Linked DNA regions of Homo sapiens: regions 2 and 3 are each linked to region 1. Evidence: fine-mapped expression QTL. A gene starts in region 1. Each other region holds a variant in brackets. All regions are shown on one strand. Distances are from middle to middle.

Region 1 (2,767 bases):
TGGAAGGATATTCTACAAAATACCCGACCAGTATTCTTCAAAACTGTCAAGGCCATCAAAAGCAAGGCATATCTGAGAAACAAGGAAAGTCCAGAAAAAGTTAAGGAGACATAATGATTAAATATTATATGGCATTATAGATGGGATCTTAAAACAGAAAGAGCATATTAGGGAAAAACTAATGAAATCCAAATAAAACATGGATTTAGTTAATAGTAGTGTACCAGTGTTTATTTCTTAACTGTGATAAATGTAGATGTACCATAGGAATGTAAGATGTAAGACATGAGTTATACTGAAACTCTGCATATTATCTTTGTAGCTTTCTATAAATCTAAAAACTATTCTAAAATAAAAAGTTCACTTAAAGTAGGATGAATGACAATAAAGATAAAAGAGCATAATGCAAGGAAACTATGAAATAGGTAAGGAAATACAGAAGTTATTAATAAATATTAAATGTCAGCCTACCACTTGATGTATTTGTGTCAATAAATGGCAGGATACCAGTGAGTCCATTGGCATATTAATCCAATAAACTTTTATAAATGATGAATTGGTTGTAAACATTGTGTTTTATAGCATTTGAAAATTCCAAATGGTAACTCCGCACACGATGCTTCTGCTCACATATTTCAGCATCCTGCTTTTAGAATCTGCAGAAAGAAATAGTTCATGTCCTTTAGGGAGGTTTAATAAAAAGCAACAGGTGGAAAATGGATTTTGCAGTAGCATGAACAGCCATAACCATAAATACTAGTACCTCAGAATTATACCAGCAGAGGACTGTAAACACATTAATCTCCCAGCAGTGCAGAAATTCCATTCTCAGATGTCATCTCAATTTCAGGCACAAAGATTGAATGCCTCCATTTAAATTCAAAACACTGAAGGAATATGATGATCCTTTTTTTTCATGGGGATTCATGGAGTGAGTTTGCCAGTTTCCTCATCTATAAGATGGGGTTGATAAATCCCATCTCAGCATTGTGGGATTAAATGAGATGATATACATAAAATACCTAATATGATGGATGGTACACAGGATGTTTTCAATAAATGGTAGTTTACTTTTTATTATGCTCATGAACATTAGGATGGTCTTAGAATCCCAGAACTAGAAGCCACTTAGAGATTTACTTTTTGAAACATTGTTATTTTACAAATAAGGAAACTGAGACCAGAAGGCAGTGACTTGCCTGGAGTCAGGCAGCAACTTTGTTCCAGAGTTGGGACTGGAGTGAGTCTTTGTTCCTCGGGTCCCACTTGGGTGCTTTTTCTAGATCCAGATTTCCTGACAGTACTGCAAACCTACTGTGTGCTAGTGGCTGACACAAAGCTCTCTGCACAATTCCAATCCTGGCATCTCTACTTCTGAAGATGCCATTCCTTTTCCTCAGAGGGAATGGGCTTCTCCGCCTCCCTCTCCAATAGGTGTGGCAATCAGCTGTCTTCCAGTTCCCTTTCACTGCATCAGCATTTCAGCCGCAGCAGCCTGCTTGTGGACAGAGCAGGGGTTGGCAGTGGTGACGACTGTTTTGGGAAAGGAAATGTAAGGGCATTTCGGCTGCTGTGCTGGGGCTGACGAGGAGCACACAGGAGAGATGCCCCTCCCATCTCCCAGAGTGGGTTGGCTGGAGTTCATTGCGGAGCATGAGGACGTGTGGGGGTAAGTAAAATTCATTATAAAAGAAATACATGCTTAGGGGTATCCATGATGGAAAGAAGGAAGCTATTTAGACTTTAATACTTGGTTTAAAAAAAAGTGACTTTTTATTCACTTATTAGTATGGCGAAAATAATATGAAAATTACTTTCCTGTGGATTCATCTTGTCCTTTGATAACTGTTAGCACCTGTTGCTTTTAATTAAGCTTTTTTTTTTTTTTAATTCCCTAAGGAAAGCATTGTTTTTTATTTTCCGGTATGTGGTACAAGACACATAACTCCATTAGTTTAGTCAAAATAAAAAGGATTTTTGAGAATTTTGAGAATGAGAAGCAACTTGGCTGCATTTTTAAGATGTGGTCCAGCAGCACATGGTGTTGTGGGGGAGATGTGGCTGCATTCATGGTGGGGCTGCTTCACCTGAGCCCCTGTCACATTCTGCTCCTGACTCCACAGCCCCCTTTGCTTTTTAAAAACTTCCATTTCTTAAAATGAGGAGGAAAAGAAGCAAGGAAGACATTGGGGAGGCAGGGAGGAGTCTGGAGGGAAGGGCTGCATCTCCAGCCTTGCCCACTTAGTCCTTGTCCTTCATAGTCACTATTTACTGCAGGCCGGGAAAGGAATGGGGGTTATTTCTGGACAATTGTCTCATAAAATCCCGTCAGACCCGTCTGAATGCTAAACGTTCCATGGCACTGGTTATCTAGGGGAAGAAAATTTTCCTTAGCCAAATTTATGAGGCTGGGTTGAAAATCAGGTTGAAACAGAGCCTGGCGAATCCCTATGGCAAAATGATTCATCTTTGTGGAGTCGGGAAATCTATTTTTATCACCTTTATTCAGCCAGCTCCTGATTGTGATTCTCTCACTGAGCTACAGCCGTTTTCTTCATGGTGCTGAATAGACCAAATGTCTCAGGAGTCTGAAACTTCTCTCCTGCCACTCCCAGAGTGGCTGATTCAGCAGTCCCGGGAGAAGGGGTTTGTCCTGTGCTGCGCGGGTGGGTTCCGCACAAGGTGAAGGTCAAATAAAACCGAGAGGCTGCAAGTGTCAGCAGCCAGCCTTTGACTCAGGAATCCTGCCTGAGGGTATGTGCCACTC
Region 2 (2,767 bases), 160 kb before region 1:
CCTTTGGAGGAGGTAGTTGAATATTGTCTGTGTGTGTGTTTTTCTGATCCATTTTTCTTTGAGATTTTGTGCCTGGGTACTACATAAAGCAGCACTGTTTTCATCCAGGAAACCTACAGGAGTTACTTATTGTGAGTGAGAAGCTTAAGTGAGTTGGAAATGAGGAAACTGAGACTTGAGGGTTGGCAATTTGTCTGAGGGTCAGTGACTTCTTGGCTGCGATTATTCCTGTTCTCTGGAGCCCTTTCTACACCAGTATATGAGTATTGGCAATTTGTCTCCGTTTGGGACATCATTCATTCATTCATCATATAGTTATTGAGCGTGTCCTAGGGACTCAGTAGTATGAGAGACAAATGTGAGATTTCCATTCCACCTGGAAGGATGGACGCTGAGCACAGAATCACGCGTGTGATGCATGCTTGGAAAGGGAAGAGCAAGTTGGTCTGGAACACAAAAAGGGCCGGGATCTCCTTTGGTCTAAGGGGCAATGGGACAGCCTCTCTGAGGAAGTGCTATGTAAGCTGAGACCCCAAGGATGAGCAGGGGTTGGCCATGCAAAAATGAGCAAGAAATCATGTTCTAGGCAAACACTTCAGGCTGTAGTGTTTGCCTTAATGGAAGAGCTGAAGAAGACCAGTAAGGCAGGAGCTTTGGGAGTAGGTATGAGGGAGGTGCAGGATGAAGCTAGAGTGGGCTGCAGGAAAGCTGCATGGTCCTGGCACCGAAGATAGGAATCCTCCGTGCTTCTTGGCCCGGCCTGGGCCATGGCTGGCCTTGTCTGGGAGGACAGCAGTTGGATTTTCTCCAAACTCTCTCAAATTACTATAGTTCCTGACAAAAGAATAGAAACATAGCTAACATTTATGAGAGCTTATGGCCTGGCAAATTCTGTCCTAAGCACCTGACTTTTCAACCATCCTATGAGCTAGCTACAAACTCTTATTACTCCCATTAAACCTAGAAATGAGTGAATGGCTAAGGGTTTTACGGTCATTAGGTGGTAGAGCTGATCTTCAAACTCATGCAGTCTGGCTGCTTTACCTGTGCTCCTAACCACCATGCTATGGGGTGTGATATGGTTTGGATTTATGTCCCTGCCCAAATCTCATGTTGAATTGTAATCCCCAATGTTGGAGGAGGGGCCTGGTGGGAGGTGACTGGATCATGGGGGCAAATTTCCCCCTTGCTGTTCTTGAGATAGTGAGGGAGCTCTCACGGGATCTGGTTGTTTAAAAGTGTGTAGTACCTCCCCCTGCTCTCTCTTCCTCCTGTTCCTACCATGCAGGACATGCCTACTTCCCCTTCTGCCATGATTGTAAGTTTCCTGAGTCTCCCCAGCCATGCTTCCTGTAGAGCCTGCAGGACTGTAAGCCAATTAAACCTTTTTTCTTTATAAATTACCCAGCCTCAGGTAGTTCTATATAGCAGTGTGAGAAC[A/G]GACTAATACAGGGTGCAAATGCAGGCTGTTGACCAAGGGTGTCTGTGAGGGATATTGATGAGGGGGAACAGCAGTAAAGAGCTGGGGGCAGGAGGGTAGAGGTAGGGGATGCCTAAGGATGCTGGAGGCCAGTGTTGGCTTTAGACATGTTTTCTGTATTTTAAAAGAAACTCCAAAAATAAGTCCTCTCACCTTGACAGTTTTGCCACCTGGGAAGGAGAGTGATTGTATAGAAAGAGTGCTCCAGGCATCTCCCAAACCCCACATTCTAATGCATGGGGACTCTGGTTCCCAAGCAGCCTGATGAACCCTGGTATTGCTCTGACATGATAGGCCACTCATTTTTAACTTCCATCAAGAGTTGTAAGTAGTATGATATATTTAAAAATGTATTTCTTATTTTATTTTAAACTCTGTGTGTGTGTTTAATAATTTTTTTCATTCAATTTTTTTTTTTGTTTTAGTTAGCATTCTTATGGTTGCAAGCAACAGAAATCCAACCAAAACTGGCTCTAAAAAATAGACAGTTGATTGCTCATTGACGTTCTGGAGGTAGATCCCTACTTCATACAAAGGCTGACTCAGCAGCTCAATGATATCAGTAAGGATCTGGATTCTCTCTCTCTTTCCACCGTGCTGTGCATTGTGTGGCTTTATGCTCTGGCTTTACATAGGGCCTCCACACCTGCCCTACCCCACTTCAGAAGGTCCAGGCTTTTCCACTAAAGGCTGGCTGGGAAAGAGCGACTCCAGTCCTCAAGTTCTCTTTACACCCTCTGGGCAGAGAAAGAGGACACATTCTCATTCATGATCACCAGGGAAATAGATGAGTTGATTAGCCTAAGCCAATCAGACTTCACCCTGGTCCGTCCCTATCAAAGATGCTGGCTGCTACCCAACAGAGAAGCAGTGAATTCCCTAGAGGAAAATCTGGGTACTTTTAGTAGAAGAATGGGTAAAGTGGATGCCAAAGAGGCTACCACCAATTGTTACTAACATTTTATTAAAAATGTGGTAATATACAAGAACACACAGATGATAAGGGAAGGAAGGAAATAATTAAAATGAACTATTCAGAACACTGACTACTTCTTGGAGGTGAGTATAAGATTATAAGCTGGGAGTGGTTAAAAAGAGGCATTAATAGATTGTTTTACTCCTATTTTTATAAGACTAGAACAGTGCTATTTTTAGAGGTATCACTGAATGTCAAGTGCCCAACCCATACCTAATGGGTTCTATTAGGTGTAAAAATGTGATTGAATGAACTGGATTGATTTTTAAACTGTTGATTAAAAAAATAAAGATGTTCATCCTGGGTACTTC
Region 3 (2,767 bases), 170 kb before region 1:
AAAATATGAAAATAATTATTTGGGAGACTTGGCTATCACTCATTTGTAAGTTTGCTTCAGTATAAACAGTGGCAAAAATAAGCATTAATATTTTAATGTGTGAAAGTGTGCTTTCAAAAATTATTTCCTGAAAAGTGTTTACTGAGCTCCAACAATGTGCAGCATAGTGTTAGGCATGGTGTTAGGTAATGAACAAAATAAACATACTTCCTGCCCTCATGAAATATACAATGTGGCAGGGGGACAGAGAGATTAAACAATACATATATAATTACGATTTGGAATACATACTATGAAGACAAAGAATGGGGCAGGGGGGATTAAGAGAAAAGCACTCTTTAAAAAGACAAGGATTCTTAGTGAAAATAAGATTTAAGCTAAGACCACGGAAGAATTCTAAGCAGGAGAATTTGATTGATGATGATTTATTGAGAAAAGGGCTTGCGTTGGATGCTACACATACTTTTATTATGATTGTGTTTTGAAACAAGGTAGGGTAGAAACACTCTTAAATTTCTCTAGGTCTATTGAAGGTAGATATGTGTTGGTGGTAGGGCAGGGGGTGAAGGTACCTGCCTCGGAAGTTCTTGAATATTCCTTGCAGGCCACTCAGAGTTTGCATGATGATCCACTGTCCATTTTACATCTGAGGCACAGATAAGAACTCTTCTAAGAAAAATGCGGAGAGGACTTTGGGATTTGTGTTTGAGCCTAGACTCTGGATTAAAATTCTTGGACAAAATAGAGGCTGTAGAGGCTGTACTCCACTCTTAGCAGGAAGGGGCTGCGGGAAACCTGCTTGCTTTTCAGTGAGGGAAGAGAGCCATTTTGTGTGAGACTTAGGGTGGTGACCCACAGATGTCTTCTCATTTGGGAACTTTTCCCAAATTCTTCCAAAAGAGGGGGCTTTATAAACTACTAAAGCCAGGTGCCCTTTGGGATCCTCATAAATTGTAAACCCTGGAGGTCCTTGACTGAGATTCCTTTCAACACTTGAACTACCATTCTTAGACCCCCTCCCCCATCTTCCCAGTCTAACATGGCTGCTGGAGAGTCGTGATCACATCACCTTTCCAGGAAGCTGGATGGAGGCAAGGAAAGTGAAGAGTGCATCCTTCCCATATAAGGTGGCTTCTGGGAAACCC[T/C]TTCTGACATACTGGCTACTATTTTATTGCCCAGAACTTCAGGAACATGGCCCTTTCTGTATATAGGAGAGACTCTGGAGAAGGATCTTTTACCCCAGGCAGGAGTAATGCTCAGATAATATTCTTGAGTTGTATTCCTCAGGAAAAAGGGGAGAATGGCTATTGGGGTAGCCACAACCTGGAATGCCCCTTCTCCACTTCTCCAGGGACAAATCCTTTCAAGATAGAGCTTAAACCCGACTGCCTCTGCAGCATGGTCCCTGATTCCTCTAAGCTCATTAATCCTTCCCTTCTTTGTACACACCTGAGCCTCAGTTTTTGCCTTTTTTTTAGAAAAGTTGCTGTATTTTACTATCACGAATTTTTTTTGTGTGTGTGTGTGGTGGGGGGATTTGCCTCCTTTGGTGAACCCCAGAGCCCTGTGGCCAAGGACTGCGTCTTAGTCATCACCCTGTTCCCTCCTTGTTTCAGCCAGGCTGTTCCTCACTAGGGCCTCACAGCCACATTTCCCCACTGCCTGAGCGCTTTCTCAGTGAGTCTGTGCCCAGCTACGGTTGCCTGATTGGCACTTGGACTTGGCTGTGGCAGAGAAAATAGACTCTGTTGCTGCCCTGACAGGAAGCAAAGTGTGTGTGTGTGTGTGTGTTTTGTAGTGATTAAAAAAAGCAGTTTACCCAATAGTTGCCTGGAGACAGTCAGTGATTGGACACTCGGAGGGTGATTTCTCTGTTGGCCCTTGGGTGAAGATATTCTTTAGGGTGCTAACCCTCCCCTCAAGTTAGACTGGGTCAGGGCTCGTTGGAGTTCCTGGCTGCAAGGCGGGAGAGCAGACATCTCTTTTCTTTAAATAAACATGCCCCCAGCATTCGGCCTTAGGGCTCTCACCTTCTCTTTCTTTCCCTAAGTCAAAGCAAACCTCTCTTTCACCTGTTATAGAAGTCTAGCTAATTCCCACTTCTTAGGATGAGGGAAAGATAGAGCACTTCCAATGATAGTGAATCTAAAAAGAAATGGAAGAATTTTTATTATAGTGGTCACCTGTATGAGTTCTTATTAGACAGGTATTTTTAAAGGAAAAAAACCCAAAATAACTGACTAGTAGCTGGTATCCATGGTATCAATAAATGGCCACGGCTGTGACTGTTAATTGTCATGACCCAATGGGAGCACTGAGAAATAGCATCCCCTCTTCTTTTCCTATGGAAAATTAAAAAAAAAGTTGCCTGTGGAGCTGAATGTTGTCATCAGCCAACAGATGAGGTTGCCACCTTTTTCCCTAAGGGACCATGCAAGATGTCATAAATAGGAGGGGCCAGTGACAAGTAGAAGCCTGATTCATTATGCTGTTAGAGTTGACAGAGTGTGATAATAGTGATAAAAATGGCTAGTTCAGTGCCAAATAAAAATAACAGCAAACACACTTCTGGAACACTTACCATGTACAAGCGGTAGTCTAGGAGCTTGCTTGAGTGGTAGTGTAGGTGCTTGCATGAGGTGGTATATTGTGTATAGAACAAACACCCAGCACAGTGCCTGATATATAAGATACTTCTCAAGCAAGCACTGTTTATGGCCGTTTTACAGATGGGAAAATGGAAGCACGGAAATGGTAAGTGATATGC

Evidence for each region. PIP is the estimated chance that this variant, and not a neighbour inherited with it, causes the effect. A credible set is the group of variants that fine-mapping cannot tell apart.
Region 2: its variant is the best candidate, but not a certain one, in a credible set for the expression of LIMCH1 in unexposed skin (GTEx, PIP 0.55).
Region 3: its variant is the best candidate, but not a certain one, in a credible set for the expression of LIMCH1 in monocytes (TOPMed, PIP 0.58).

The regions. Positions count from the first base shown.
Region 1 is chr4:41,536,682-41,539,448 of GRCh38, forward strand. It overlaps LIMCH1 (LIM and calponin homology domains 1), which reads left to right and starts at 1,476. Exons shown (of 32, transcript NM_001330672.2): 1 at 1,476-1,669.
Region 2 is chr4:41,372,680-41,375,446 of GRCh38, forward strand. It overlaps a transcript of LIMCH1 not described here. Among named protein-coding and RNA genes, the nearest start is that of UCHL1, 120 kb to the left of the region's middle. The variant A/G (reference allele first, on the strand shown) is at 1,441.
Region 3 is chr4:41,368,169-41,370,935 of GRCh38, forward strand. It overlaps a transcript of LIMCH1 not described here. Among named protein-coding and RNA genes, the nearest start is that of UCHL1, 110 kb to the left of the region's middle. The variant T/C (reference allele first, on the strand shown) is at 1,146.